Regions from separate parts of the Homo sapiens genome. Here region 1 is linked to region 2. Evidence: fine-mapped expression QTL. A gene starts in region 2. The other region holds a variant in brackets. All regions are shown on one strand. Distances are from middle to middle.

Region 1 (15,761 bases), 25 kb after region 2:
ATCACTTCTAATGTAGACATCTTTGAATTGCGGAAGAGATCCATTGCCAGGGAGAATCTGTATTGGTTGGATCTGTATTGTGCTGAGTCCCATGAATGTGAACTCATAACTTTTCCCGCATCACCCCCTAATCCAGGATGGCCTGTCAGGCAGGAGCACTGTGACGCCTAAGGGCTTGAGCTGGGGCTCTGGAGAGCTGGATGGGGTGTCAGCTTGTCCCAGGGTGATCTTTCTAAAGGCCAGTCCAATCACATGACTCCCTTTAGTGGCTCCCCATTGCCTTCAGCAGGAAACTCGAGCTTCTGTGTGCATTTTCCAGGCCTCTTACAACTGGCCTCTGTCCACACCACTTATCACCTCCAATCTCTCACCTAGAACCATATAGGACCAGAACTCCTGGAAGGAGGCTCCCCCACATCTCCTATGCCTCCGGCCCTCTCACTTGGCTGCTCTCCTGCCTGGAATGTCCTTTCCACCTTCCTTCCCAGGCAGGACTTATCAGTCCCTGCTCTTCCGACCCCACAAAGCTCAGTTACTGCGTCATTGCTACTTACCAGGGGGAGGTTAGTTTCTATGTTCACCTCTATCTCTAGAAGCCCCAGGAGGTTGAGGACCTGCCTGATCCACCCCATCTCATCTCCCAGCCCAGTGTCTGCCCCATCACAAATGTTGCTCAATCAGCCCTAGGTCAAACATTTTGTTCACACTCATGGACCCCCTACTTGACCCACCGCCTGTGACCTGCAGGGTTCGCTGTCCCAGTGGTGGGCACTGAGAGGCCCCAGTCGCAGGCCTCACAGGTGGCTGCAGCTCCCTGGAGCCTCTTTAGAAAATGCAGTCGGCCTTGTTTCCTCCTCAGAAACAACGACTTAGCACAGCATCCGGGCCCCAGGGGAGAGTGTTCCCCCCTCAAAAGCTGCTGCCATTGGAGATGCAGGAGAGGAAGCCAAGTGGGCCCAGGAGGGACCGGATGATTCGGGGTAGATGGGAGGGAGTGAGCAGGAGGGGCTCTGATAGGCTGCATCCCTGGGGTTTCCTGCACATCCCAGATGCTGGCACCTGCTCTGGGCCTGGGCCGGCAATAGCTCTGTGTCTGGCTCTCCACCGGGCCTTGGGTGCATCCCCTGATTCCCCCAGGGTCTTCTCACCCGACTCTCCATGGGATCCATTTTCAACTCTCTGTGTTCCCTCAACTACTAGGCAGCCAGCTAGAGTCCTCACCTCTTCAGAAAAGCTGATACTAGTTAAGCATCCCAAGTCTGAAAATCTGAAACCTGCAATACTCCAGAATTTGAAACTTTTTGAGCGTGGACATGATGCTCAAAGGAAACGCTCATCAGAGCATTTCAGATTTGGGATTTGGAGATTTGGGATGCTTAACCAGTAACTATTTGTAAATATTCCAAAATCTGAAAAAAAAATCCCCAATCGGAAACACTTATGATCCTAAGCATTTTGGATAAGGGATGTTCAACCTGTATCAAATGGAGGGCTGCTTGGCTGCTAAGCCTGGGGTGGGACAGGAGCAGCCCAGACCTGCCCCTTCTTTTTTGCCAAGCAATCCTGAGTTACACAACACATTCCTGGCTACTATATAATAAGAGGTTAGGTGACATGACTTCAAGGGCATCGGAGTTGGGTTGTGGAGTCTGGCAGACCCGGGTTCAAGTTCTAGCTCCACCTCTTGCTAACTGTGTGATTTTGGGCAAGTTACTTAGCCTCTCTGAGACCCAATTTCTTCATCTGTGGAACAGAGTACCTACCTATGGAGGTGTTGTGAGGATTACATGAAATGACTGACTGACTATAAAGCACTTAACACAGTGCCTGGCACGTAGTCGGAGTTCAATGTACATTAGCTGTTTTATAAGTTACAGGTCAGCACAGGCTGGGCCATAGCTGTCGCTTCATACACCTTTGTCCCCCATGCATGGGTGGAGAAACTGAGGCCCAGAGAGGAGCGGGACATCACATCGCTGCATCCCCTTCATCAGCCTGGGCTGACACCTACTGAGGAGCTCTCTGCTGTAATGGTTTCAATCACAACAAACCTGACGCATGGAGTCTTAGATCTTGGGCTTGCCTTCTGCACAGCCTGGCACCCTCTTGTTTAAGAAACCTTTACATTGCACTAAATGCCAGGAACAGTTATAAGCCCTTTATACGTATAATAACAATATTATGCATATTAACCTTAATCCTTCTAGCAAACCCATGAGAGAGATACTATCATTATCCCCATTTTACAGATGAGGGAATGGAACAGTTCGAGGGCTTGCCCAAGGTCACACGGCTAGCAAGTGGGAGGACCACTATTCACCAGCAGGGATGCCATCGACAAGGTTTCCACCCTGAGGTGAACATAGCCTGGGCTCTGTGGTGTGATCATCGCGGGGTGATCTGGGGTGTCTGGGGCACCTGAAGCCTGTCTTCTCCCTGCACCCTGATGCTCGGGTGGAGGAGGCATTTTGGAGGGGACTTGGTGGCCTGTGACTGGGCACAGCGGGAGCATCTGCTTTGTCCTATTAATGCTATTCACTAGATGCCACATCTCAGGCCACAGCAGGTATTTCCCTCGAGAGAGGACAGTGAAAACTTGGAACAGAAGAGCTTTTTATTATTCAGAATAACTGCACTATTTAATTTACTATTAATAATAGCTCTTGAGTCAACCTTCTCCTGAAGAGAAGTGAGAACTGAAAGGATGTCCCTCTCTTCTCTCCCCTCCTCCCTCCTTTTCTGCCTCCTTACTTCGGAATGCTGTGAACTCAGTCACGAATGATTGAGCTGTTTTGGGGGTAGGAGTGGGAGAAATGGAGGCCCAGCTCATGCAGCGAGCCTGGTTACTCCTCCTCCCTGCAGAGCCTTGCTCTGCTGCTCCTCGGGGGTCCCTGGAGGCCATGACCCATCTGTTGTCAGATCCCTCCGGGAAAGAGGATGACCTGTCCTCCTAGGCTGGGCTGGAGGCTAGAGGCCAGGAGGCTGTTTCAGCTGCAGCAAAGGGAAGGCTGCATCCAGCAATCCTTGCCCTCCTTGTCCTGAGGGCAGGAGTGTGTGTGCTGAAATAAGAAGATGGGGATCCCGTCAGAGACCCATCTTCTGCCCTCTGCATCCAGCGAAGGGCTCAGCGTTAAGAAGGAGCACGTCCAGAGAGGACTACAGCCAGGAATGAGACTTGAACCCAAGCCAGGGGAGGAGGATTTGGTTTGGAGTTCAGAAGAGTTGGGGGACTGAGAACTGCTTTCAAAGAACCTGAGGGATTTGGTTCTTCATCTACAAGCCCTCACTGAGGGCCTGCTCTTCCAGGTGCTGGGAACATGTGAAGCCCCCAGAGGGGCAGAGGCAATGAGATATAACTAATGCTACTGTAAGGCAGTGCTCCAAGGACAGGACCACCATGTCCGGTGAAGTCCTAGGAGGTGAGGACTTGGCTTGCCTCATTCAGAGCTAAATGGGCCTCCTGGCTCCCTGAGGCAAAGGATATAGATGGTCTTCTAGGGTTGACTTTATCCCTTGGGCATTTATTCAAGACGTCAGGCACGCTCCCGGCATCTACATCCTTGACTCTGCCTCCTGTATTGGGGCCCTGTGGGATCTCAGGTGTGTCAGGTGGCCCACTGGGGCTGACCTTCCAGAAGATAGAGGCCTGTTTCTCTCTTTCTCCTAACTACCCAACTGTGCAGAGCTAGAGGACAGTGGCTGTCCCCACAAAGGTCTCTCACGGCTGCAGACCAGCACCCCGTCCACCTCCTCTCACCCCTGGGACATAGCCAACCAGCCTGCTCTCCTCTTGTCAATCTCCTCACACCCTGCCCATCTGTAGAGTGGGCTGAATCCTAGATATCCTTAGGTGATTGAAGAGTGCTTTCTAACACTCTGGTGCGGGGTGGTTTCGGTCTGGCTTTCCGAACGTGCCAGAGCTGGGTTCCACATACCTGCATGCACATACACTCCTAAGCACACACGCTGCCTCCACGCATCCCGGCTTTCATTGTGAGGGCCCCACTCTTTATTCAAGGAGCGGTCTCGGGTGTCTGAATGGATGCTTGAAGGCTCCGTCTTTGCAATTAACACGCTGCTGCAGTATTATTAGCCTCTGATAGGCAGGTCTGCCTTTGCCAGAAACTATAAATATGTGGGGCCAATGACTCAGCAAATCTGTTGCTATTTTTCTTGCAGGTCCGTGTGGATCTGTATCTGTGTACACCATGGCCCCATCTCCCAGCAGCTCCCATGGCTTGTATCCATGGAAACGCAGTCCTCCCCAACTATGGTTCTCTGCTGACAAAACCTGGGAGTCTCCCCAGCCCCCTACCCACCTCGGAAAAGGAGCGTGGACCACACAGGCTCCAGCCAGCAGGAGGGCGGCACTGTGGAGGAGGTGGCCACTTTCTCAGTTGCTTTGAAGGGCCAGGCAAGGCCAGGCCTCCAAGACCTTCCTCCGCGGGTCTGTGGTCAAGGCCTTGTCACCTGCTTAAGGGGAGCGGCCTGTTGAGAGAGCCATCACTGAGGCCCTGGGCCCTGGTGGGATTCAGTTGGCAGGGCAGTCCCTGAGGGCTGTGGGCAGTGCGGCAGGGGAGGGGGGGGGAGGGGTTACTGCCCTCACGAGTGGGGAGCACTAGCACTTGGGAGAGGGAGGCTGAGGAGTAGGGAGAGGGCCAGTGGCAGTGAGGTGGGGGAAGGGGATGTGCAATGTGGGATGAAATCTTGGAGCCTTGGCCGGGCACCGTGGCTCATGCCTATAATCCCAGCACTTTGGGAGGCTGAGGTGGGCAGATCACCTGAGGTCGGGAGTTCGAGACCAGCCAGACCAACATGAAGAAACTCCGTCTCTACTAAAAATACAAAAAAATTAGCCAGGCGTGGTGGCACATACCTGTAATCCCAGCTACTTGGGAGGCTGAGGCAGGAGAATCGCTTGAACCTGGGAGGCAGAGGTTGTGGTGAGCCGAGATCGTGCCATTGCACTGCAGCCTGGGCAACAACAGAGAAACTCCATCTCAAAAAACAAACAAACAAACAAACAAACAAAAAACAAATCTTAGAGCCTTGGCTGTGTCAAATAAGCTGTGGGATAGAAGAAAGAGCATGGCCTTGGAGTCCCTCCCTCTGTCCCTCCTTTCCTTCCACAAACATTCGCATTTGCTTCTTCTGGACCAGACTCTATGCTGGATGTGAAGACCCAGAAATGTTTCAGAATTAGACTCTTTCTCCTCAACGACCCACAGTCTCGGGAGAGAAGACAGATTCTTCATCAAGTCAGAGAGCTCAGGGGTCCTGAAGGTCAGGATGGTTGTCTGTATCAGAGCAGTGGGGCACAGGAGGGTGGTCAGAGAGGCCTCCTAGGGAGCTGCAGCCCAGGGGGCAGGCCAGGAAGATGAGGCAGTGTGTGGGACGACTGGCAGGAGGCAAGAGAGGGCAGTGCCGGGAGCCAGTGGGTGAGAGACTCGCGCACTAGAGTTCTAACTCTGGCTCCTGTTGGCGGTGCTCCCTGGAGAAAGCCACCTAAGGTCTCTGGTGTGTAAAATGGGAAATGGCAATACCTACCTTATGGGCCAGGATGGAGGATTAAATAAAACATCTGGCCCCTCATGCAGCATTTATTGTATTCATTCTATGCCGGGGCTGTCCCATGCCTTTTGCTTTCCTCCCTACAGGGTCTCTGTCACTTCGTCTGTCAAATGAGGGAGCTGGGCCAGATGATGTCTAGAGCCTCTGACATTCCCTGTCCTCAGTTTCCCCGTTTTTGAAATAGGAAGAAGAATCTTCCAACACGCTCCAGAAGTGAAGGAATGGATCGTGGAATCAACAGATATTTACTAAGAGTAGCTTGGGACAGGGCGCAGTGACTCATGCCTGTAATCCAAGCACTTTGGGAGGCCAAGGTGGGAGGATTGCTTGAGCCCTGGAGTTCGAGATCAGCCTGGGCAACAGCAATCAAAAAATCAAAACGCCGGGTGTGGTGGCATGTGCCTGTAATCCTAGCTACTCGGGAGGCTGAGGTGGGAGGGTGCTTGAGCCTGGGAGGTCAAGGATGCAGTGACCCCAGTGAGCCATGATTGCACTACTACTGCACTCCAGCCTGGGTGACAGAGCAAGACCCTGTATGTTCAAAAAAAGAAAATATAAAAAAAAGAGAAAAAGAAAAAAGCAGCTTGCTTTTCCCCAGCTTAGGGAAAGCAGAACCCAGACAGATATCACCACTGCTACCTCCATGGGATGTGGAGGAGCAGGACACCCAGCACTCCCAATGTGGCTGGAGAGGCCCAGTGTGGTCTGCAGCCATGGAGCAGTGACTCTGGGTGTCTCGTGTCGCTGCTCTGCTGCTTTCTCTCTTCCTGTGTCTTGTCTGTCTTGGGTAAGGAAGGACTTGCTCAAGGCCCTGGGATCTGATTTCTAAGGACCATCTTGCCCACCAGGGACCTCCAGACCCTTAAATCCTTGTACTCAAAGCCCTAGGGAAGCTGAGGATCAGGCTGAGGATCTGAAATTATTAACACCGCTTTGTCATATCATAGTGGAGTCTCACACTGAGCCTCTGAGGTAACCCCTATTGCTATCTCCATTTTGCAGGTGAGGAAACTGGGGCTCAGAGATTTTAGGGACTGGCTCAAGGTCACCCAGATGCAATGGCAGGACCAGGATTTCAATCTAGGTCAGCATGACTCCAGCCCCATGTTCTTTCTGGGGCTCTGTACCCACCCTCTGGAACTCTGGTAAACCTCCTGAATCCATCGGGAAAGTAAAGGAGATATAAATAGCACGTGGGATTGTGAAGTGAAAAAAGCAAGTTGCAGAACAATACCTGCAGGATTATTGCAGTCATGTAAAAGAACTACTTGAAATGATGCGTCTATATAATGAGATAAATGCACAGAAGCAGGTCTGGAGGGAGATCTATCCAGGGTTGAATGGTATTCCCCTCTGGGTAGGGTTCAACATATTTCAGAATTGGTTAAGTTTTTATTACAATGAGAATGTATTTATGTACTACTTGTGCAATAACAACCTCCCTCTCCCATAAGGCAGGAGATGGGGTGACCCACCTCCTTATGACATGAGCCATGTAAAGGCTGGGGCAGGTGGAGACCTGCAGGGGAATGTAGGCTCATGGGAACCTTGGAGACAGAATGGCAGTTTTATGTCAGAACTCTTTGTGTGTTTTTCTTGTCTTTTAACAGCCTGGAGAGAAACTCCTTCAGTCATTTTACAGTGAGGAACCCTTGGCTGGGTGCAGTGGCTCATGCCTGTAATCCCAGCATTTTGGGAGGCTGAGGTGG[G/A]TGTATCATTTGAGGTCAGGAGTTCAAGACCAGCATGGCCAGCAAGGTGAAACTGCCTCTCCTGGGCGTGGTGACATATGCCTGTAATACCAGTTACTCGGGAGGCTGAGCAAGAGAATCGCTTGAACCCAGGAGGCGGAGGTTGCAGTGAGCCGAGATCTCACCACTGCACTCTAGCCTGGGGAACAGAGTGAGATTCTGTCTCAAAAAATAAATAAATAAAAAAGAAAGACAGAAAGAAAGAAGAAAAAAAGGAAGGAAGGAAGGAAGGAAGGAAGGAAGAAAGAAAGAAAGAAAGAAAGAAAGAAAGAAAGAAAAAGAAAGAAAGAAAGAAAGAAAGAAAGAAGGAAAGAAAGAAAAAGAAAGAGAGAGAGAAAGGAACCCTTAAATCTAGATAGCCTCAGCCCAAGGTCAGAGAGCTTTGTTGCCACGGATTGGTTGGTTAGTAACTTGCTTTATGTTGAAGACAGGCCTGGCTTTGACTTTATACAGTTACTTGCAGATTCTTTGAACCTCAGTTTTCCTACCTGTAAAATGGGATTGATATAGCTACTTTGAAGAGTGTTCGTGAGGATTCAGCAAGATCAAGTTTGCTAAGTGGCCATCACCGGACAGGGGCTGTTTTCAACATCATTCCCCAACCCTCTTTTCTGTTCCCTTTGTCTAAGGAATGCCATTCTAGACTCAGCATGGTGCAGATGAGACATAGGCTTTGGCCTGAATTGGGGCTTGGCCACGTCAATTATTGGCATCTAACATTGAGGACATATTAGATGTCAGGAATCATGCTAAGGGCCATACATACAACTCCCTTAATCCAAATCTTGCTGCCTACCTCAGAGGTGGGCACCACCTATTATTATCCCCACTTTACAGATGTGGGAATTGAGATATCAACATCACCCTGGCCTCATAAAATGACTTAGGAAGAATTTCCTCTTTTTCTGTTATCTGGAGGAGTTTGCATAATAAGGTTTGTTTATTTACACTTAAATATTCACAAGAATTCACCAGGAGAATCATCTGGGCCTGGAGTTTTCTCTGTGAAAAGAGTTTTGACTATAAATTCAATTTCTTTAGGAGTTCTAGAAGCAGTCCTGTTCCTCTGCCCATGCCTCCTCCTTAATCCTCAGCTCCCAAATCTGAGTCCTGGAGGAGGTGATTATAATTGCAGGCCCTGCAAGGTACCCCCAGTTTTATTTACCCCCCATGTGGACACTCTGGCCTTGACTCTCCTCCTTATTGAATGGCAGGGCAGAGTGGGGTGGGGGAGGAGGCAGAATGCCAAGAATGAGATCCGACTTTGCTATCTTGGCTCCAAGCTTGCACCTCTCCCTGCTCTGGTAAGCTGTAAGGAGCAAGGCCTGTGGCTGGAGGACCCATCCCTGAGGCCAACCTTCTGGGACTGTTCCTGAGGATCCACTATGCAAGGTGCACTGGGCCCTGTGACAGCTTAGCAGAGCAGAGCTGCTCCACCTGGCATTGGGATCTCTAGGAGAAGCTCGGTAAACCTAGAATGAATGAATGAGCAAGTTAACAATGACTTCCTGAATGACTGGAACACCTGCTCTAGGTACCCAGCTTAGAAAGGTTAAAAAGACACTTCATCTGGTGCAAGGCAGACACATGGACACATGGTCCATGACATCTTTGGTGACAAATGCTGTGCTACGGGTGGCATAGGGTACTGTAGGGGTACAAGGGAAAATGTCTGACCCATCCTGGGGGTGGGTGATGGGGGTGGCAGGGGCTTTTTGGAAGAGGGGACACAGGCTGAGTCTTGAAAGACACTAGGAGTTAGTCAGGAGGCTGGTGGAACTGGGAGAGAGCATGGGGTAAGAAAAGCAGGGCACTTCCACAGAAGGGGAAGACACTGCATGGTCCCTGAGCTCGGTCTATTAGAGAAGCTACTGGTCACTCAAAAGTCAGCCTCATTTCCAGGCCATTTATTGCTCCAAAGGATCCTGGACTCACAGTGCATTGGAAGCTCAGTGTTCTGACCTTTCCTGCCAATATCAAGGTCAGGGGAAAGAGATCCCTTTCTACCCGAGCTCAGCATTTCTAACTGGAGGAGGGTGATAAAACAATTAAGGATGCATCTGACAGTGAGTAAGAGAGAACCTAATAAATAGTGTCCTAACTGTTTATTAGGGTGCAGTGGGGGTGAGGAGGGTATTTATTCCATATAAAAAGAAATTCAGGGATGGGCAGTCTGGGGCCACCAGGCCGTCAAGGCTCCAGGCTCCTCTCATTGTCCCTTCCACCAACCTTAGTGTGAAAGCCTTTGTCTTCATGCTTGTTGCCTCATAATTGCAAGATGGCTGCAGCAACTCCACACCTAGATCCAACTTCCAGGCAGAAAGAAGATGGAAAGGCTGAGGGGAATGCCAGTTCTGTACCTTCTAGAAAGAATGTCCTGAAGCCCTACCCGGTGACTTCACTCCTATCTCATTGACCAGAAGTGGGTCCCGTGGCCATCTCTAGGCCAGTCACTGGAAGGTGGCTGGGGAAAAAGGGGTGTGGAGAGGCTTGGGCCAACCAGCCAGGAGCATCTGCTACAGGTGGTCACCCACCCCAGAAAGCACAGCCCTCAGCCCCCTAGCTGTGAGAGCCAGCAGAGGCAGGGGGGAAGCTGGCCACTCCAGAAAGGTCTCGCTTCAACAGTCATTCAACAAATGCTAACCATTGCCCCCACTGTGCCCAGCAACTTGGGCCCTGGAGCCCAGTAGAGGAAGTGAGCTTTCAACACAAGGCCAGGCAGAAAGGAGAGCCAGACCCCAAAGCAGAGAGCCCCTCTCTGGGTGGGAGCATCAGAGGGTCCCAAGCCTGCCAAGGCCTTTCCTTGCCTTTGAAGAAAAGGAGATTAAATAGGACCAGCCTCAAAACCCCAGCAGAAAGGACCTGGCCTCTTTATCTGACTGACTGATGAAGTGGCTTCCTCTGGGGGTTGAAGGAAGGTATGCAGATAAGTGTGAGTAGTAGTTACGCCACGATCATTCAGGAAGAATTGGGGTGGTGTGGGGGCGGGGAGAGGTCACTGCTGTGCCATCAATGTCAGCCTCACACAGTGTTGCAGAGCCCAGGCTCATCCCCTACTCCTCCCATTTCACTGATGTAATCTGACATAGCCTTCCCCCTTGGAGGCCTGAGCCCAGGAAGTTACCTTATGTTACCGCCCAGCAAGGTCGCTCAGGCCTTCTTGAGCTTGCCCCGTGATTCTGCCAACCAATTTCAGACAGAGCAGATCACTCTGGGTCTAGTAGGAAATGCCCAGGTCTGGGCATCAGAAGGCCTGTGTGACCTTGGACCAGTCAGCCAACCTCTCTGAGCCTTTACTGACACCTTGTGGCAGCTTCTGCCCAAAACCAAAGTGCTTGGGTGAAAATAAAAACCTGTATTTCCCTTCCACTACTCCCCTGCCACTATGCTCTGGTCTGAGTCACATCACTGCAGAAGGATAGCCTTCCAACACACCTCCCCATCCCACCTCTCTAGGCCACTGTCCTGAAAGAATCAGTGAAAAGGCTTCCCAGGGAAGCAGTTACGGCTCAGTCCTCCAGTCTCCAGTTGCAGGTCTCAGAACTCAGTCCTGCACAGTACTAGTACTTTCATCAGCTCCAGGATGAGGATATGGTGGACACGTGCTTATCACATGATGTCAGAAAATCTCCAGAGGCCAGGCATTGGTGGCTTATGCCTGTAAGCTTTGGGAGGCCAAGGTGGGAGGAGTGCTTGAGGCCAGGAGTTCAAGACCAGCCTTGAACAACATGGTGAGATGAGACCCCATCTCTACAAAAAATTTAAAAATTAGCTAGGCATAGTGGCACATGCCTGTAGTCCTAGTTACTTGGGAGAATCGCCTGAGCCCCAGAGGTTGAGTCTGCAGTGAGCTGTGAACATGCCACTGCACTTCAGCCTGGGTGACAGAGCGAGACCCCGTCTCAAAAAAAAAAAAAAAAAAAAAGAAAGAAAGAAAAGAAAATCTTCAGAAGGGAAAAGTAAGTCCACAGCCTCTCCTAGATTACTGCTTGGTCATGTGTTTGTGTGTGTGTGTCTGTGCACATGTGCGCTCACATCTGTGTACACAAACACCTGTGTGTGTTTTGTCATGGACCTGGGGAACTTCCTACCAGGCTCCTGCAATGGAATGGTTTCAACCGAAGCTCTAGCTGGGACAGGGCCCCTCGTTTTTGGCTTTTGAGATGAACGCCCCAACCTAGTTAGTTATCAGTGCTCGGTTTTCTTGGCTTCCTTTCCTGCCCCATCTATATCCTCTGTCTTCCAATCCCACCATCCAAACCTGCTCCAAACCAGAGGTTTAAATGAATCTAATAAAACCACTCCTAGAGGCAGCTGTTCATGGCTAATAAGGGTGCCCAGAGTGGATGGATAGGTTGGGAAGGGCCTTCCAGGCCTAGCGCCAAACATTATTGGTAGAATTTCAAACCAGGTCTCTGTGGCTAAAACTTTGTCTCTTCCAGGCTACTGGTCTGACCCACTGGCACAGGGAAGCAGTTTTGGGTATGAGGGAAAAGCTGTCCTGAGCTCTCCACACCTCCACCCAGCCATCTGGGAATTCTGGGGTAGGGTATGATCTGTGGATGTGGCTTGGGGACTTGGCGTGGACCTGCAGTGGTTGGCTGGCTCCACTCCATCAAGAAGATTAAGAGGTAATTGAGCAGCTGTTCTGGATGAGGGAGTTGCTGCTTGAAAGTTGGAGGTTGGCCTGAAACCCTCCCATTAAATGTGCTTGTCCCTGGGATTCAAGAGCTCTCTTCAAAAGGCAGGGAGCCCATCCAGGCCCTCCTATGGCTGGAAGAAACCAGTAGCAACCCAGAGCATATGGGGAAACTGAGGATCAGAGAGGAGTAGCTGACTCCCATTTTACCAGGTTGAGTGTCATGGCAGCCTGCTGCCTGAGGTTGGGTGGTATGGCCAAAGGTGGTTCTGGGCCAGAATCCTTCCTGCTGGGCTCCAGGAACCTCCTCTCCTGTTGGTTAAGAGCCAGGAGTGCAGGCTTTTGGAGCCAGGGGCTAGACCACCCTCCTGGCACTGCTATATTCCAGCTCCTTCTCCCCACCCTACAACACTGTCCCTAACGCATTTTTCCATTACTTTTGTGCTCTGAAACATTCGATGGCTCCCTATCACCTCCAGGATCTGCTGCAACATTCCCTGCTGGCCCCTCCCCGCATCACCAGCCTCACTCTGTCTGGACTGCCTGCTACTCTTAGCACCCACCTGCCCTCTGCCCTCTCCTCCATCTCCACTGTGGCCTTCCTGCCATCTTCCCATCCCTTAAAAGCCATTTCTCCAGGAAGCCTTCCTGTCTCCACTCCGTAATTGGGGCAAGCTACTTAACCTTTCCAAGCTTCAGATGGCACCTCTGGGAAAAAATGAGGGAATAACAAGATGCTGCCTCCAAAGGGTTGTCGTGAGGCTGTCACCAATGAAATAATGCATACCCAGGGCACATCACAGTACCTCTTGTACAATGAGGACTCCAACAAAGGATGCTGGGTCAATTTCATCATCATCATTGATATGTTATGGCTATCTCATCGTGAATTGTAGGTCCCATAATCCCCATGTGTCATGGGAAGGACCAGGTGGAGATAATTGAATCGTGGGGCACAGTTTCCCCCATCCTGTTCTCATGATAGTGAGTTAGTTCTCATAAGATCTGATGGTTTTTATAAGAGGCTTCCTCCTTTACTGGGCACTGATTCTTCTTTCTCCTGATGCCATGTGAAGGACATGTTTGCTTCCCCTTCTGCCATGATTGTAAGTTTCCTGAGGCCTCCCCAGCCATGCTGAACTGTGAGTAAATTAAACCTCTTTCCTTTATAAATTACTCCTTTATAAATTACATCTCAGTACATGTAATGTACATCTGTAACGTACATGTAATGTACTGAGTAATGTACATCTCAGGTACATCTTTATTAGCAGCAGGAGAATGGACTGATACAATCATCATCATCAACCACTCTTCCTCCTCCTTTCTGTGGAATAATAAGGGGATAATAAGAGGGACTCTGTGGCTCCCTCTTCTGAGCTGTCAGAGTACCCTTGGTCTCTGTCCTGTGCTCCATTTAATTAGAGAAGCAATGTGTGGGCATGCGCCCCTCCCCTCAGACTCCTCCATGGCTGGGTCCTGAACCCCTGAACTCCAGGGCCCAGGACAACAGTGCTCACACTTTTGAATCTCAGGACAGCCTGAGTTGCTAGGCTTTCTTCCTCAGCCCTGGAGAGCACTAATGGTGTCTTTCAAACCTGGTATCCTGGATGTGTGAGCGTGATTGGGTGGGGGCCAGCCCTGGGCTGGGCTTTGACCCCCTCCTCGGGCCTGATGAGAGCTCTCATTACCTTCCTTCCTTGCCAGCTAGGCCTTGGGGTGAAGCCAGCCCTCAACCTTTGATGGGAGGAAGGCTTAATTACCCCCTCAGGCAGAGGGAGAGGATAATGAGGAGCAGATGAAAAGCCTGGGAAGGTTGCTCCTTCCAGAGGCCCCCACCTCTTAGCACCCAGGCTGCCCCCGGCCCCACCTTCAGCCTCTTTGGGCTTAGGTTAAGGCCTTGCACCCTGGTCTGCAGAGGGCCCCAGCACCCATGGCCCTTGTGTGATTCACAGATCACAGGGATTACCTTGGATTCTCTCTACCACAGTGCCTGAAATCTCATTAGCACTTCCTATTGGGGTCACACCAAGCACTCCTACCCAATCTAGAAAGAATGGTTAGAATTTTTCATACCACACTGGGATCCTGGGACAGTTTGGATAAGGAAGCCATACATTAAGGCCTCTGGTTTGTATGAAACCTGAAATTTGTGATGGAATGGGAAGCAAAGGACAAATTTCACAGAAGGAAGCCAGTGGAAGGGGTCATAGGCCTGCCTCCTCTTGGGGCTTGGCTGGGGATTTGTGGTTGGGACAACATGGCTGGGCTTGGAGACTCTCTTCCCTCCATTGCAGAGCAGCTGAAGGGCTTGGTGTGTTCTTGGCTCTCAGTGGGCAGGCAGGAGGGGAAGAGGAGGTGTCAAGTGTGTCTGGGCAACAGTGACAAAAGATGAGGGAGAGTAGTTGGGCAGACAAGTAAAGATCATTCTTGCAGGGCAGGCCCAGGATCCTGGGTTCTTTCTTGTGGGGGGCACGGGGTGATGTGGGTAGAACTAGGGTGTTTTGTCTTCTTGTTCCCCAACTCCTGGGCCATCCCTTGGAAATGCCACTGTGCTCAGCCCAACAGGGAAACCCTGAGGGCTCTGGCCCCACAGCTGCACACAGGCTTGCAGGGTGTTTAGCTTGAATGCCAGTCTGTCCTCCCCGGCGTTGTAGCAGGACTAGCCGCAGACAAAACCTCTCAGACACCAAGATGTAGAAGGAAGGGCTTTATTCCGCTGGGAGCATTGGCAAGCTACTGCCTTAAAATCCAAGCTTCCCGAATGCACAATTTCTGTCCCTTTTAAGGGCTCACAACACTAAAGATTTCACATGAAAGGGTTGTGACTGATTTGAGCAAGCAGGTGGTATGTAACAGGGGCTGCATGCACCGGGGGTCAGAGAGAAACAGAACAGGGCAGGGAGTTTCACAATGTTCTTCTATACAATGTCTGGAATCTATGAATAACATCGGTTTCTAAGTTATGAGTTGATTTTTAACTACTGGGTTTAGGCCAAGCAGGCCCAGGCCTGGTTTCGGGCCTGGCGCCAGGCTACCTGTCTTTGGTTTTACCTCCTTGTTGTTTTTTCTTAAAACAGGTACTGAGTATAAAACAATATAAAACAATATGAGAGGGTCTCTCTCTTCGCTCAGCGTGGGCACCTCTGGAGCAGGACAGTGGAGAGGGGCCTGAGGAAAGTACTTCTGCCTGGACTAGCACCTGCCCCGGTCATGGTTCCCCAAACTCCCCATTAGTGCTAGTTCTTCCCAAAGAGGCATCAGAGGGGCAGGGAGGTGCTGGGGGACACTGTGGTCCATGCTGCCATTGACTGATTTTAGGGTCCTGGGCCAGTTAATTTACTCTTCTAAGACCTAGTTGCCCCATCTGTAAAATGGGGTTTGTAACAGTATCTCAAGGTTGTAGTGAGGACTAAAAAAACATAGTGTATGTAAAATGCTCAGCATAATGCCTGGCATGGGGCAAATGCTCACCACTGTTAACTGTTATTACAGTTATTATTAATCCCGCTGGGCAACGTTTCTCAACCTTTTTAAATTCCAGGCTCACTTGTGATAAGCATACAAACCTCATACTCCTCCCAGTAATAGTATAGGATTTAAAACATCAAGGAAATAGAAGGTTGAGGCAAAAAACAAATCGAAGCACTTATTATATAGAACATGCTTTTTCAGATGAGAGAGCACCCCTGCCCCCGCCCCCCCAACACACATACACAATTGAGGCTCACTACAGGGGTGGGAGCTGGGAGGACTGGCAGCCCCCTCTGAGAGGCCTCAGGGTGGAGGGCCAGGAGCACAGG
Region 2 (15,761 bases):
AACCAGCATCCTGTACCCCCGGACCCCCCACCACACCCCCCACCCTGCCCCACCTCACCTCCCCTGACAAGCTGCCACCTCCTTCCCTCTCTCCCAGCTCCCCAAGGCAGCTGGTTACATAACTGGGGATTCTGCATTATTTATGACCACTGATTATTTTTTAATTCTGTGATTACGTTATTATCTTCTTGGGGGGCTGTGGAGTTGGAGGGGCAGCGAGCTGATCGTGATTCATGGCTCTCATCCTGCAATTTGGCCTAATTGGCCAGGGAGCTTTGGTAAATCTGTCCGGAGGAGGAGAAGGCAAAGGGAAAAGGGAGGAAAGGAAGGCGTGAACAAAAATAATAAGAAAAAAATCCACGCAATTCTTGCTGAGCTGCAGGTGATGGAGCTGACCCACTTTGGCGCAGCTCCGTGGTCCCCAGCCTCTCCTGCTCCAGCTGCTTCCTGGCTGGGCCCCATTTATCTCACACTTGCATGGCCTATGGCTTTCCCTGCCACCTTCAGACAAAGCCCCTTGCCGATGGGACTGCACAATGGAATGGCCAGGAAACAGAATGCCAGGATGACTGCTTCCTAGGCAAATCCGGTGGGGGATCCTCCACTGCCACCCAAGGCTGGGGAAACGTTGTGCCAACCCCTCCATCTTCCTGAGGTGTTTGGGCCAAAGTGAGCAACTGTGCCCTTAAGTTATATCCCACCCAAGAGTCACCGATGATGTGGGAGACACTGGTGTTAATGCAAGGATCACTATTGAGCCCCCATGTTGAGTGACGCCTGGGGGAGGGGGAAACCAAGGATGAGGAGGCCAAGTACCTGCTCAAGGTAAGCTCAATACCTGGGGGCCAAGGACAGGGGCCCTTAACCCTGCCTTTGGGAGCTTCTGGTGGGTGGGTAACAGGGGAGCAGTGGGGAGGCAGATTCCCACCCAGAAACATGACCAGCAGATTCCTGGAGAGTGTGTGGGATTCTCACTGAGAACGAATCCAAATTCCGTGCATGCTGTGCATGGCTCGACGGAATCTGACTCCCTGCTCCCTCTTTGACCTTTCCTCTACTCTTCTCCTTGTTCACTGCCCTCCAGCTGCTCTGGCTTCCTTAGCTGAACCTGCATATGCCAAGCACACTTCCTCTTCGAGACCTTGGCACCGGCTGCACCCTCAGCCGGGAATGCTCTTCCCCTAGATAGCCATGTGACTTGTATCCTCACTTCTGTGGGGTCTCTGTTCAAAGGCCACCTTATTGGAGACCCCCTTCCTGCCCCCATCCCTGTCACTCTCTATCTGCTTTTCCCACTGGCAGGGAGTGAGACTGCTGACTGCAGGAGAAACTAAAGGGCCCCAGCCAGGAGGCCAGGATGTGGTCCTGACCTCCCTGGTCATGGCTAAGAAACTGATGTGATTCCAGAAAACAAGGCCGTACGTGGAGCTGAGGAGCAGGCCAGTTTTAGAATAATTCATTAAAAACATCAAACAGATACGGAGTGAGCTTTGTGCCTCTCATTGTGCTAAGTGCTTTATATATGTCTCATTTAATTCTCGCAACAACCCTGGGGCAGGGGTAGGGGAGGATGCCTAAAATGTAGTCTCCCCATTTTTACCAATGGGAAAACAGAAGCACAGAGAGGTAAAGTAACTTTCGCAAGTTCACACAGCTAAGGAGAGGGTGGAGCTCAGATTTGAACTACAGGCATCTAGCTGCAGAGCCCATGCTCATAGCCCCTGAGCTGTTCTGCATCTCTTACTTAAGATCTACAGAACTTTGAGGAGCTTAGAGAACCTGCTGGGACTGGCCCGGTATCCTGGAGTACTGGGGAGCCTGGGAGAGATAAGGGCTAATTAACGATTGACCGTCATATCCCTCTGCAGCACAATTTTAGCTTTCAAAGCACTTTTACATCCTCACCTCACTTAATCCTTTAAAAGACTTTCCCCACCAATGGGATAGAACTTGCTCATCGCCCAGGGAGCCAGTGGCAGAGCTATAGTAGGGGTTTGCGAGGGCGAGGGAGGTGTGGGAGAGGGAACTTCAACTCTTCTAGGAGTGTGAGTAGGTGTTGATCCCCGCGCCCCCAGCCCACTGCATGCCAAGCCCCTAATAAATCCTTATAAGATCACCGTGCAGTGCAAATCACCACATCCCAATTTCAGAGATGAGCAAACTGAGGCTGAGGGACCTGGGGAGGAAGTGCTTTGGTGTGGCTCATCTTTCAGTGAATTTCAGGCCATATGCTCGAGAGGATGAGGAGAGTCTGCCATGATCAGTGGCATCAGGGGGCTGGGGAAGGGGAGCAGCAGGCAGAGGAGGAAGATGGCTGAGGGGAATAAAGCTAAGCCCTTCCACTCCGCTGGCCTTGTTCTTTCACCAAGCATATGTGCAGCCCCCCACCCCCAACAGTCTTGTATGTGACTCTCATCTCCACTTCTAAGTGCTTGGCCTGAGACAAGAACACAGCTGGTGGGCTCTAAGCTGGTGCTGCCCAGGTCATGGGGTGAGGTGAGGGAACAAGTGAGTGCCTCTCAACCTTGAGCCTACCCATGCCCCCGATAAAAAAATGCTACACAAAGGGACTGAGGAGAGCCAGGCAGATTCAGCTTTACAGCTCCCTTGGAGAGCCAAGAGCCAAGACCACAGGTTCCAGAGAGCAGGGAGATTCCAACCCTTTTCTCCAAACCGGGGTCTGGCACCCCCCCTTGGTAACCCCATCCCTGGCAAATCCCATCTCACAGGAAGACGGTGATGGCATCTCTTCTTTTGCTTGGGCCTCCCAGAGCTTCACCTGCCTTCCTCCACACTCCCCTCTGCCTGTCACCCTGTGTCTAGACCCTGCCTGGGGGACGAGAGAGTTCTGAGGCTTACCCACTCCCCCAGCTGGGTGCCATTGGCAGCGGGCAGGCAGTGGCATACGGGGTAGGCTCTGGTTGCCGTAGCAACCTGCCAAAGTCTTGGGTGGAGGCACATGGCCTACAGGGTGTGTGGGGGGAGGGGACTCATTTTCTCTGTCCTGGCTGAGGCCTCTGGGCTGCATAGCCTGTGAACCTGGAGCTCTGCTATTGGAGACATGGGAGTGGGTGAGTGTGAAAGGGAAGGAGAGGGCATCTAAACGATCTGCAAATAAATCCTAGAGCTATTGCATCACAGATGAGCATAAGAGATCATCTCTGGAAGGCCCCTGTCAAAATGCAAAGAGATCGCCCAGTAGCTCACCTGCTGAAACCCCAGAAAAGGCATCAGGAACCCGAGTTCTAGGCATACTTCTGCCACTGGTAGGCTGTGTAACCTTGGACAAGCCCCTATTGCTCTCTGGGCCTCAGTTTCTTCAATAGTAAATGGACAGAGCTGGTCTGGATTACCTATGAGATCCTTTGAAGCTCTGGGTGGCTATGCGGTGGGGAGAGGGAACACAGATGCCTGGAAGATGCCCAACTGGGAAAAGGCTGGGAGTTGTATCAGAGTTGACTCCCAGGCCTAGAGTCAATCCTGGCTCTTTGTGGGTACCTGCCGGGGCATAGGTCTCATGTCCCTGGCCAAGACTGAGACTTTGGACAGTTCCCATGGCCCTGATCTAAAATAAGATGGAGGCAGGGGGAAAACTGTAGTGCCTTGGACCCAAGAGTTTGGAGGAGGAAGCGTTCCGCAGGGGCATCTGGCGCTTGATCTCCAAATTGTACTGTCCAAAGATGTGCAACCCAGACTATGGCCGGCCCAGTCCATGGGCAGAAGCACCACCACCTCAGTCTGCCTGAAGCAACAGTCATTCTCATCTTCTGAGATGGGATTTCCTGGTAGGCTCCACGAGGCTGACCCTGGACAGCTCTTGTCCTGGCATCTCTATGCCCACTCCCTATCCCATTCTGAACACAGTGCCCTTCAAACAACCCCTCCTCCTTGGCTCTCAGGCCAGGCTGCAATGCCACTTTGCCAGCCTGGAGTTGGTACCTACCATCACCCCACCTCTTCAGCCTTCCTAGAGCCCCTATCCTCCCTGCACAGCTGGCCAGGGAGAGCTTGAGCCCATAACTCCAATTCAATCACTCTCCCTGCCATCTCTGCAGGGGCCCTGATTACAAGGAGTTGAAATTTGCCTAAAGCCCACCTGGCTGGTATAATGGCACCCAGTGGGCAAATTCAGGCTAGCAGCTCAGAACGCTGGTCATGCATTTTGGACTCGAACGCAGCACAGGGGGCAGGGCTGAAGACATGTGTACCTCATTACCCTAGCGATGTGAGAAGCAGTAATTAAACCAGGCTCCACTTAGAAAGACAGAGAGGGACACACACATCCCAGCATTTCTCAGTGGCTTTTCAGCCTTGGCAAAAATATTTAGAACAGTGGGATGGAGACTCGCATCCCCTTAGGGAAGACTCCTGCCCCTGCCAAAATATGCAAGGAACTCTGTTATCCACTACAGCACCCCCAGACCCATTCTTACCCCCGGACAAAGAGGACATAGCTGGCTTAAATTTTTCCAAGATCAAGGGTTCTCAGTATCTGTGTGATTTCTAGGGATATGCTTTGAGCTGGGCCTCAAGCAGTGGAAACCACCTCAGCACAACTATCTGCACTCTCCCAGGGTCCCTTGTGACCAGATCAGAGTCTGGGAGACAGATGGTGGGTTCAAGGGTCAGCTTGGGTCCCAGAAGGTTGTCTTCCACTAAGAAGCTGTGGCGGGATTCAGTCCTTACTGGCCATCTTGGCAGCCCTTTGTGCTAACCCAGAGCTCCAGGCCCACTGACATGCTGCTCAAGTAACCTCTACAACACCGAGGCCCCTCCAGCCTTGGGGTCTGATGAGATTTTTAGCAAAGCAGATTTGCGGAAAGGAGAGCAAGGAGAAAGAAGGTCCCCAGTAGAGTGACACATGTGCACGCAGCTTTGCACACTCCAACGTATTTATGAGTACGTTTTTGTGCCAAACCCAAGAAGGTTGGCTTAGGGTCTGTCTGGTCCCTCCTCACCCCTCACTTACCTCCCTCAGCTCCTTGGCCACCTCCTTGAGCTCGCGAAGGATGCCCTCAAGCTGCCCGATGACCATCTTCATGCGCTGTCGAATCCGCTCCCGCTCACCACCACTGCTGGGGTCGTCACTGGGCTGCCCGAGGTCCGGGGCGCCCCGAATGTTCATCGTTTACCACGTGGCCGCAGGCCTGCCCATACTCCCCCCAGCTGGGCACACACTGCGTCTGCCTCCACGGAGCCCCCCTCGGCTGGGCAGAGCTCCACATTTTAACGGCCCCCCAGCCCACCCTGGCCCTGGGCGGCCCTCAACCAGCCCCTGCCCCCTGCCACCCAGCCTCCTCTGCCTCTGGGTGGAGAGTGGGACACCCAGAGGGAGACAGAGTCTAGCAGAGGGGGTCAAGGTGAGGACACAGGAGAGGAGGGGGAGGGACCTTGGGTCCCAGGAGTGGCCTCCAGGTCTTGAAGTGCCTGTGGGTGTGCAGAGCTGATCTCTGCCTGAGCTTGAACACAGAGGCAGGGGGATGACTCTGCAGGGACTAAGGGTAAGAGATGCCCTTGGGATGGGGGAAGGCAGCAGGGATCCCCTCACAACTCCTAGGCAGTTGCAAAGGCAGAGGTCTCTGGATGCAACTGACACCTGCAGAGGGATGGTGGCCAGGGTCTTCCAGATGTGGAAGGGGCTCCGGATATGGGCAGCTCTGGGGAGGGAGCTGGATTGGAAGAGGGCAGCCCCCTGCGGAGAGAGCGAGCCTGGCGTCAGCCCTCCCAGGCTGCAGCACCAGCCGGCAATGCCGCTGCCTCCCTCCTCTCGCCAGCCTGCACCCTTCCTCGCTGGGGATTTTTTTTTCTTTGTGGGGAGGGGTGGTGGAGGCAGACGGTTTACAGCACAGCCCCTCCTCTAGAGGGAAAGGGAGGGAGCCCCTGCTTTAGAAGCAGAAGTCCTCAGCCTGCTACGGGGCACCCTGGCCGTAGCTCCCGCCCTCCCCCCCCACCTTCCCCCCAGCCAGGCCTGCCCAGGCTGGTTCACCAGAGGGCCTCTCCAGTCACCCATCCTCCCTCCTAGCGCCCCCAGGGTGCCCTCGTTCCCAGCGGACCCTCCCTCCCCCAGCCCCGCCTTCCCTCAGAACCCCCACTCCTGGACTCACCGAGGGTGGGGGCACCGGCCTTCCCTCCAAGCAGCGTCGGGGGCCAAGCCCCAAGACGGAGTTGGGGGGCCCCCAAGGCTCCCTAGGGCGGGCTTCTCTCTCTGGACCCTTCGGCCCCGGGCCTCAGGGAGGTCCTCCGAGCCGTGACCGGAGACATCTGGGCGGTGGGAGGGGGCGGGGCCTCCGCGCTCCAGGGAAGGGGGCAGGAAAAATCTTTCTCAAGCCTCTCCAGGCTCGGGGTCGGGAATGAGCGAGGGTCCGGCAGATTTGGGGCTCCGAGGCCACAGGTGACCGGGGCGCGGGGAGGCCGAGGAGACGCCGGGCAGGTCCCAGCGCGTGAGCCAAAGTCGGAGGGCTGGGAGGGCGCCGGGATCCCCTCAGCCCACGCCCGGCATTCCCCGGGCTCTGCACCGTCCGGGATTCGCTCTGTCCAGTCCAGATCGGCCGGGTCCGTGTTCCGCTGGGGTCTGCCCTGCCCTACCCCGCCCGGAGTGAGCTGGCACCGCCGGGCGCCCGGGACGCGCTCAGCCCGGACCCAGAACGTCCGTGCCCCGGCACCCGCGGCGTCCGGAGCGGCCGCGAGGGTCTGCTCAGCCCAGCCCCGCGGTCGGCCCTGGGCGAGACCGCTCCCACGGCTCAGTTCACGTTCCGAAAGGTCCGGAATCCACCGGGTCCCCGAGGAGGGGCGATGTCAGCCGCGGGGACCCGGTCCCCGCCGGGCCCAGCCGAGAGCGCGCGAAGCCGGGGGCCCCGGCCGGGCTGGGTTCGGCGGCCCGGGCGCAGGCGGGAGCAGCGCCGGGCGGAGGAGAGGAGAGGAGGCGAGAAGAGGCGAGGGGAGGAGGCGCGGCGAGGGGAAGGGAGGGGAGGGGGCGAGCGGCGGGCCGGGCCGGGCCGGGGCGCACTAGGCTCGCAGCCTCCGCTCGGCTCCGCTACCTCCCGTCCGTTCGCTCTCGGCTCCCCGCCTCAGCAGCCCCCGGGCGCCGGGTCGCCGCCGGTGGGGCAAACAGGCGCCGGGTCGGGGCTGGGCCTCCCTTCACCGCCTCGCCCTGCCCTGCCCCGCCGGGCTCCCGGGGCCTGGGCCCGCTCCCCAAGCGCCGCGGCGCCGCGCCGCCCGCGCCCCGGCCGCCCCCGGCCCGCCCCGCCGCCCCCCGCCGGACTGGCCGCCCGGGCGGGCGCTGGCTCCCTTAAAGGCCGCCCGGCTCGCTTGGCTCCGCTTGCCTCGGCGCTGTCAGGGAAGGGGCCGGCCCGCCGCGCCGGGAGGGAGCTTTTAAAGCGACACACACGCCTCCCAACCCCGAGGGCCAAGCGTGCGAGCCAGGGGGGTCTCGCCACCCGGGCGAGGGGGAAGGGTCTCGCTGGCGGGGCTGGAGGCGGACTGACCGGACCCCACGCCGGCTGACCTGGGGCGCGGAGGGACAGCGTTCTGGGGACTTCGTTCCTTTCCCACCTCTCCAGACACCCCCATTGCCCCCTTCCCCTACTGCACTGCCCCCAAGCTTCCCTTTTGGCCACGTTTCCCGCATCCAGACCCTCCCTTCTACCACCCACATAACCCAGCCCCTGACCTTGCCTGAAATCACATTCATTCAGAAAATAGAATACTGCCAACCTTTCCTGAGAACCTACTGTGTGCCAAGCTCTGGGTCGGCAGGGCTGGGGGTTGGAGGCTGTCTTGGACACCCATCGTTTCCTTCAGCTATTCAACAATTGACTCATGTATTAGAGGCCTTCTGTGCATCAGGTTCCATGCTAGGCTCCGGGGCCACCAGAGCATTTCAGGAAGCTCACGGCTCGGGGACACTCCTGAGTCACAACAGAGGCAAATTCTGGAAGCAATGTTAACAGGGGAGTAGGGAAGTGTGGGTTGGGTGGTGCAGTTCAGGCCAGGGCCTGGCGGGTTCTGCCAGGTAGGCCACCCCTGAGCTGAATCTCAAAGGAGGAGTAGGAGTGACTGTCAGTGTGGGGGGTTGGGGATCAGCATTCCAGGCAGGGAGGAGGGTGGGAGCACAGGCTCAGAAGCAGAAATGGGAGGAGGGGAGTTTAAGTTAACTGGGGCCTTTTAGATACCATTTTGACTGCAGACCACAGAGAGACTCAGAGACCATGGTTAGGAGCTTAGATTTTATCCCGGGGCGGAGGGAGCTTTGATATTGGGAGGAACCTGGGCCTGCTTGCCTTCTCAGGAAACCCCTCTGGGGCATTGTGAGTGGGTGTGAGGAGGTGCCACCGAGATAGAGCAGTTAGGAGGCTATTTCACCGTTGGCCAGAAGACAGTGGAGTCTATGAATCTATGCTCATGAGAGAGGCTGGGGCTTGAGAGTAACATTTTGTTTGTTTTTTTTTTTGAACCATCATTAGAGGGGTGAGATGAACAGGGACGCTGCGTAGAAGTAACAAAAGCAGTAGTTCTGGGCTGGAACCTCAGAAAAGAGTCCATGAGTGAGAGGGAGGAGTGATTAGAAAGATAGGAGAAGAACCAGAAAGTGGAGAGTTATGTAGGCCCAGTAGGAGGAGTTTGGGAGAAGCAAGTGCTCATCAGTGTCGAACGCGGCAGGGAGTGGCTGTGAGAGAAGGAACAGAAAGTGTCTATTTGTCTTGGTACTCAGGAGGCCACGGGTGACATGGCAGGGGCAATTGGTTTTGGAGGGTAGAAGGTGACAGGAACCAAACTGTTGGGCATCGAGGACTATGTGCCCAACAGTGAGGAACAGGAGTGAGTACAGATGACATTTTCAAAAGTTTAAGTGGCGGGGAAGCAGAGATCTTGAACTAGAGGCAGAGGAGGGGTCAAGGGAGGTGGGGCTAGGTGGTGGTTTTAGGCTGGCCCATGGGGGACTTGAATTCCAGAGACAGTGATGGTACTGTGGGTGCTAATGATGTTCCTTGGTCTCTGAGTTATCTCAGAGATGTATTCACAGGGGGCTGCTGGGGGAACTGACTCCTACTTCCTTGAGATTCAGCTCAGGGGTTGCCTTTGGAGAACCAGAAGCTGTGAGGGTGGGAATCCAGCTGCCCTGGGTTGGGGAGATGTTCTTCTGATGGGGTGGATCCAGAGGGCCCACCAATCACTTAAAAAATTGTAGCAAAATATGCGTAACATAAAATCTACCTTTTTTTTTTTTTTTTTTTTGAGACAGAGTCTCGCTCTGTCACCCAGGCTGGAGTGCAGTGGCGCGATCTCGGCTTACTGCAAGCTCCGCCTCCCAGGTTCATGCCATTTTCCTGCCTCAGCCTCCCAAGTAGCTGGGACTACAGGCACCCACCACCACGCCCGGCTAATTTTTTTGTGTTTTTAGTAGAGACGGGGTTTCACCGTGTTAGCCAGGATGGTCTCCATCTCCTGACCTCGTGACCCGCCTGTCTCGGCCTCCCAAAGTGCTGGGATTACAGGCGTGAGCCACTGCGCCCGGCCTAAAATCTACCATCTTAACCATTCGTAAGTGCATAGTTCAGTGGCACTAAGTACATTCACATTGTTGTGTAACCATCACCACCACCCATCTCCAGAACCTTTTCATCATCCCAAACTGAAACTCTGTGATTAAGAGCTGATAGCAGCCACTCTCTGTGGAGCACCTACCAGGCACCAGGCACTGGGCCAAGTACTTCCACATGCATTATCTTATTCCATCTCACAGTGACTTTCCATCACCCCTCCCCCCGCCAGCCCCTGGCAACCACCATTCTATCTTCTGTCTCTGTGACTCTGACTACTCTAGGTGCCTCATATAAGTGGAATCACACAGTCTCACCAATCACTTTTGTGGAAGCAGTGATGCTAAGGAACAGCCGAGACCAAAAATGGGCTAAGCCTGAAAAAAAAGAGTTTCTAGTCTTAGGTCCAGGGAATCATCCGCCCTCATCCAGGATGAGGGAGATGTGTTTGAACTGGCAAGGTTAGGAGACAGTGAGCTTGATTGGACAGGGTGGACTGTGACTGCTTAATACATAATTGATCTCGGGTCTCATTAATAGAAGCACAGTGTTTTGAAAAAGGGAGGTAACATTTCTTCTGTCATTTGTGTGGATCAAACTGTGCCTAGCACCTCAATTCATTGGGTGTGTCCATAGGAGGACAGCCAAGTAGAATAGGGGAGGTGACTGGTGTATATGTTCTATGAAGGATGGTAGGGCTGGTCAGAGCAGGCTAGAGAAGAGGAGACTCAGGAGAAGGGGTCTCTGATTGTAAATCTCCAAAGAGCTGCCACAGGCGAGAGGGAATAGATAGTATCTGGGTGGTGCTCAGACCTGCCTTCCTTAGTGTTTGGGGATTGATCCATCCTTTCTTCCACCCAACCTCCCTGGCCACCTGCCTAGATGTCCCATCCTTTAGATCTCTGCTTATTCACCGCCAACCTCCACCCTCTAGGCAGCCTTCCCTAGTGCTTTAGTCTACGGAGAGAAATGGAAGCACTTTTTTTTGCCCTTAACCAAATGCTTCCCAGGGCATTCATTTAATGTGCTAGCTGTGTGACCTTGAGCAAGTCACTTAACCTCTCTGAGCAAGGATAGCAGCCTATAAACATTTTAATTCTTTCTTGAATTGGGTCTCTTGTAAAAAAAAAAAGGGGGGGGGATGTATTTCACTGTCTCTCTGATTCAGAAAAATCAGGACAATAATGACTACTTTCCAGGGTCACTGTGAACATGGAATAAGATAATGCACATGGAAGTACTTGGCCCAGTGCCTGGCACCTGGTAGGTGCTCTGTAAATGGTAGCTGCTATCAGCTCTTATTCATGGCTTCATGTCTGTAAGCCTTATTTCCATGTGAGTCTGTGAACTCCTCATGATGGGCTTGTGTGTGTCTGCCCATCTCTCACATGGACCACTGCAGTAGACAGTAGACAGCGATTTTTACCTGTCTGCCTGTTTTCCACCATCCAGTTCTAGCATTCCTTTTCTTGGGGAAACTCCCTGCTGTCATCACATAATCCTAGTGGGTTGTCAGTTAAAGTGCCCACTACTCCCACCCATCCCTATCCCACTGCCACTAACTAGGCATGTGACTCAGACTGCACCAACCGTGGAACCCCATCCTCCAGCAACAGTGATTGGTCCAAGGGGTGGGCACATAACCTAAGCAGGACCAATCAGATTCTTTCCCTGGGATTGATATGTGGATGCTGGGAGGAAGAACCCCTCTTCCTAGTGGGGTGCAAAACTGGATGTTATGGTCCAAACCTGCTGACAAGCCATTTTTCCCACTCAATCTAGGAAGCTGAGCAAGGCAGCAGAGAGGAGAGGAATTTAGAGAGCATGCTAGCAGCATTGAGTCCCAGTTTTTGTTCTCATGGCCTTCACTCCTGCAGTTCTTCTTTCAGTCTGGAGAGCTGCAACAACATCCTACTCATCTCTAAGAGCTGATAAATTCCTCATATTGCTCCAGTTCGTTTGGTGGGGTCTCTGTCTCGTGTAACCAACTGGAGCCTGACAGATGCACTCAGGAAATACTAAATGAGCTGACTAAATGATTGACTGAGTAATTGGGTTCCCAGATGGGGTAAGATGTCTCCAAATCCTGAAGCCAGAGGGTTGGGACCTGCTGCCCTGTGGCCATGGAGGGGAAGTGGGGGCATTTGGGAGATTATTGCAACAGGCCAACTTGGATTTGGGCCCCAGCTTTGTCATTTGCTAGCTGTGTGATCTCAGGCAAGTTACTTGCCCTCTCTGAACTTGAGATCCTTTGTCTATAAAATAGGCAAAGTACTAGTGACTGCCTAGGGTTGCTTTGAGGATGGAATGAGATAAGGAGCAAAAAGCACCAAGCACAGTGCCTGGGGTGTGGGGGTGAGGGAGCAGGAGTTGGAAGAATGGTAAGAAATGGTAACTGTTTTTATTTAGTCTGCAGTCTACTCTCTCTAATAGCGCAGGACTGAGACTGGCATGCAGCTCAGGAGAGAACGAGGATTCAGTCTGCAAGCTAGATTCTCAGAAGCAATGGATCCTGACACCAGGGAAGCAGTGCCGGGGTGACAGTGGGCATGTTTGGGCTTCGAACAGATAATAGAGACAGTAGAGAGAGTCTACAGAGAGAAATGGAAGCACTGCCTAACACTTAGGCAGTAGAGTTGGAATGATAGGGCACCAATGCCAGCTTTTCCATTAACCATGTGACTCATTTAATCTTCCCAAGCCTAAGTTTCTCGTTCTGTAAATACCTTCCTGGTAGCTGTCTTGAGGACTAAATAAAACAGTTCATGTATCATGTTCAGCACAGGGCTTAGTAGGCGTTTGATAAGTATTACCTATTATTATTGATATTGGGGGCTTAGGGAAATTTTCTAAACACAAAGGTTGGGATGAGTGGCAGTCAGGTGGGATCAGAGGCAAACTTTTCATGACAAAGTCCCCAAATAAAGGAGTTATAGAGAATCATATCTGAATAGCCAAGGAAAGGCCATTTCAGAATGACAGGGTGACATATCTCCTTCTGTGGCTGGACAGTGTCGGGTTCACACTGGGAAAGCCATGTCTGAGGACATTTCTGTCATCTTGCTGCCCACAATAATCTCCCCAGCTGAGTCAAGTTTCTCAAGAGTTTTCTACACTGACTCCTTCCACTTCCTCACTTCCCACTCACTCCTCAAACCTTGTAACCCGCGCCTGCTGGCACTGCATTGCTGGAATAACCCTCACTGTGCAGGACATTATCCTTGCTAAGACCAGCAGACACTTTTCTTCCCCTATCCAAGGCAGCGACCTTGGGGGACCTGACCCTGCTGAGCTTGTCTTACTTCCGGGTCCCCTGTCCTGTGTGGCCTCATGTCTCCTTTCTCTACTGATTCCCTTCCTGCCTCTCTGGCTGCTGCTTCTCAGTTGGCTTCAGGTGTTCATCTTCTTTCTCTGGCCCCTTAAAAGTTAAGTCCTCAGGGCCAGGCACGGTGGCTCATGGCTGTAATCCCAGCACTTTGGGAGGCTGAGGGGGGTGGATCACGAGGTCAAGAGATCGAGACCATCCTGGCCAACAGGGTAAACCCCATCTCTACTGAAAATACAAAAAAATTAGCTGGGTGTGGTGGTGCGTGCCTGTAGTCCCAGCTACTCAGGAAGCTGAGGCAGGAGAATCACTTGAACCTGGGAGATGGAGGTTACAGTGAGCCAAGATTGCACCACTGCACTCCAGCCTGGTGACAGAGTGAGACTTCGTCTCAAAAAAAAAAAAAAAAAAAAAAAAAAAGCTGGGTCCTCGAGATTCTCGTCTAGACTCTCTTCTCACTCTATACACCTTCCGTAAGGGAGCTCTTCACACTCCCAAAAAGTTTTTGACTTCCAATTCACTGTCTCCAGAGGAGACCTTTCCAAAGCTTCAGATCATATTGCCACTTGCCTACTGGACAGTTCATGAGGTTGTCTTGCAGGCACCTAAAACTCAACATGCCCAAGTTGGAACCCATTACCTTTCCTCCAAATGTATCCCCTTTTGTCTTCCTAATTTCAGAGAATGTCAATGCCCTCTACTCCTCCATGCACGCCACAAACTTGTGATCGCACTAGAGTCAGAGCCAGAGTTAGAGCCACCCTAGAGCCAGAGCTCTTCCACATTTCTTCAGTTACTAAGTCCTGTTGCTTCCACCCACTTTATCTCCCTGTCGATAACCAGGCTCTTGATTGCACCCATGAGCCCCTGTATTAGCCAGCAGCCTCCTGATGGATCTGCTAATCTTCACACTTACCCTATGAAGTCTGCTGTTGCTGTTGCTGGTACCAGCCTTCTGATCTACCCACTTATGACCATCCACAGCTCCCTGTCTTTATGAGGAAGTCCGGTCTCCCTAGTTTGGCGTCCACATCTTTCCAGGAGCCTGCCCTTGTCTAGCTCTCCAACCTCATCTCTATTGCCTCTTGCTCTCTGTGCCTCTGCCAGGCTGAACTGCTTTCAGCTTTTTCCTCACCACCACCTTATACCTGCCCTCCTCTTTGCCTGGAATGCTCCTCTCCTCTCTCTTCTCGAGACCAACCCCCAGACCCTCCTGAAATATTCTTCCAGTGTGCAAGGTCCCTCCTCTGCACCACCCCAGAGCCCTCGTCCACCGCAAGTACAGTGTCTGCCACACTTCCTTGCCATTGTGAATCCAGCTCTCTTCCACAGACCACATGCTGCTGGAGAGCACCTCCATGCCCTTGACATCCAGTAGAGCCAGTCAAAGTCAGTTCTCAAGGCATGTTTTGTAAATATTGAGTGACTCTCTCAAATAATTATTTATTTTGCATCTTTGTTAAACACACTATTTTAAAGATGACCCTAAGGTGGAAAAAACTGGAAGGAAGGGGCATGGCACATAACTCAGGGGTCCCCCCAACACGTACCCTGAACCTTAATGGCCTTCCCCAGAACTCTAACACTCAGACATCACTTTCCCCAGGAAAGACCTGTATGCAAAGCCCTGCTGTGTGACTTAGACCAAGCATATGCCCTCTCTGTGCCTCTACTTCCTCTTCTGAAAATGGGATGTTGGGGTATTACAGGAAGATGATATTTTGCAGAGTACTTTCAAAGAATCTTCAGTTAGCTTGCCACGGCATGGAAAAAGTATGCTGTTATCATTTCTGCCTGCCTTCTGGGGAATTTAGGCTGCCCATTACCCTACTCCCCATTCTCTTATCCTTAAATCTCTCTCTCTCACTTACTCTCTCTCTCTGTCTCTCCTGGTTCCTTCCCATCAGCATTTAAACTGGCTCTCTAAATTCTTTCATCTTACAAGTAAGATCCCACTTCCCTCTCCAAGTACTGTCTCGTCTTTCCTCTTTCCACAGCCAAACTCACGCCAAGAGTTGTCCCCATTCCCTGCCTCTCCTTCCCTGGCTCTCACTCATCCCTCTTCCTTGCAATCTGGCATCCGCCTCCACCACTCCCCTGAAAAGCCTTTAAATGCTAAACACACCCGTGACCTCTAAGATGCTCAATCCACAGGACACGTTTGAGCCCTGATCTGACTTGTCTTCTCACTGCATTTGGACATTCAGCCGCCTGTCCTCTCTCGGCATCAGGGATTTCCAGCCTTCCTGGATTTCTGCAGGCTGCATGTTCATGGCTGGCTCTCAGCTTCCTCTGCCCACTTTCCACACTGCCCAACTTTGGATGCTGGAGTTGCTCAAGGCTCAGTTCTGGGTCCTTTGCTTTCTCATGTCTCTCTCTGCCTCCTCAGTTGTATATCCTTCTCTGCTGATTGCCGTTACTACCAATATGGCCACGAATCCCAAATCCACATCTCCAGCCCAGATTCTCCAATTCCAGACTCATGGATCCATCTTCATGTCTTCCGAGAAGCTCAGATTCAAAACTGACCTCAGGATAAACTCTTTGCTATGGTCTAAATGTGGTGTCTCTCAAATATTCATGTGTTGGAACCTAATCCCCAGTGTAATAGTATTAAGAGATGGGGCCTTTGGGAAGTGATTAAATCATGAGGGCTCCACCTTCACAAATGGGATTAGTGCCCTTGGGAGCTGGCTTGCCCCTTTCACCACGTGAGGATGGAGAAGGTACCATCTCTGGCGAGCAGGCCCTCACCAGACACTGAATCTGCTGGCATCTTGATCTTGGATTTCCAGCCTCCAGAACTGTGAGCAATGAATTTCTTTTGTTTATAAATTACCCAGGCTAAGGTATTTTGTTGTAGCAACAGAAATGGACTAAGACACTCTTCTTCCCCA

The links.
Region 1: its variant is fine-mapped to the expression of INSYN1 in esophagus mucosa (GTEx, PIP above 0.99). The same link has a PIP of 0.9 or more in unexposed skin.

What each region holds. Positions count from the first base shown.
Region 1 is chr15:73,770,852-73,786,612 of GRCh38, forward strand. No RefSeq gene overlaps it. Among named protein-coding and RNA genes, the nearest start is that of INSYN1-AS1, 11 kb to the left of the region's middle. RefSeq lists an enhancer at 3,713-4,912. The variant G/A (reference allele first, on the strand shown) is at 7,281.
Region 2 is chr15:73,746,006-73,761,766 of GRCh38, forward strand. It overlaps INSYN1 (inhibitory synaptic factor 1), which reads right to left and starts at 7,346. Exons shown (of 3, transcript NM_001039614.3): 1 at 6,105-7,346; 2 at 4,970-5,692. The coding sequence starts at 5,125. RefSeq lists an enhancer at 5,463-6,236.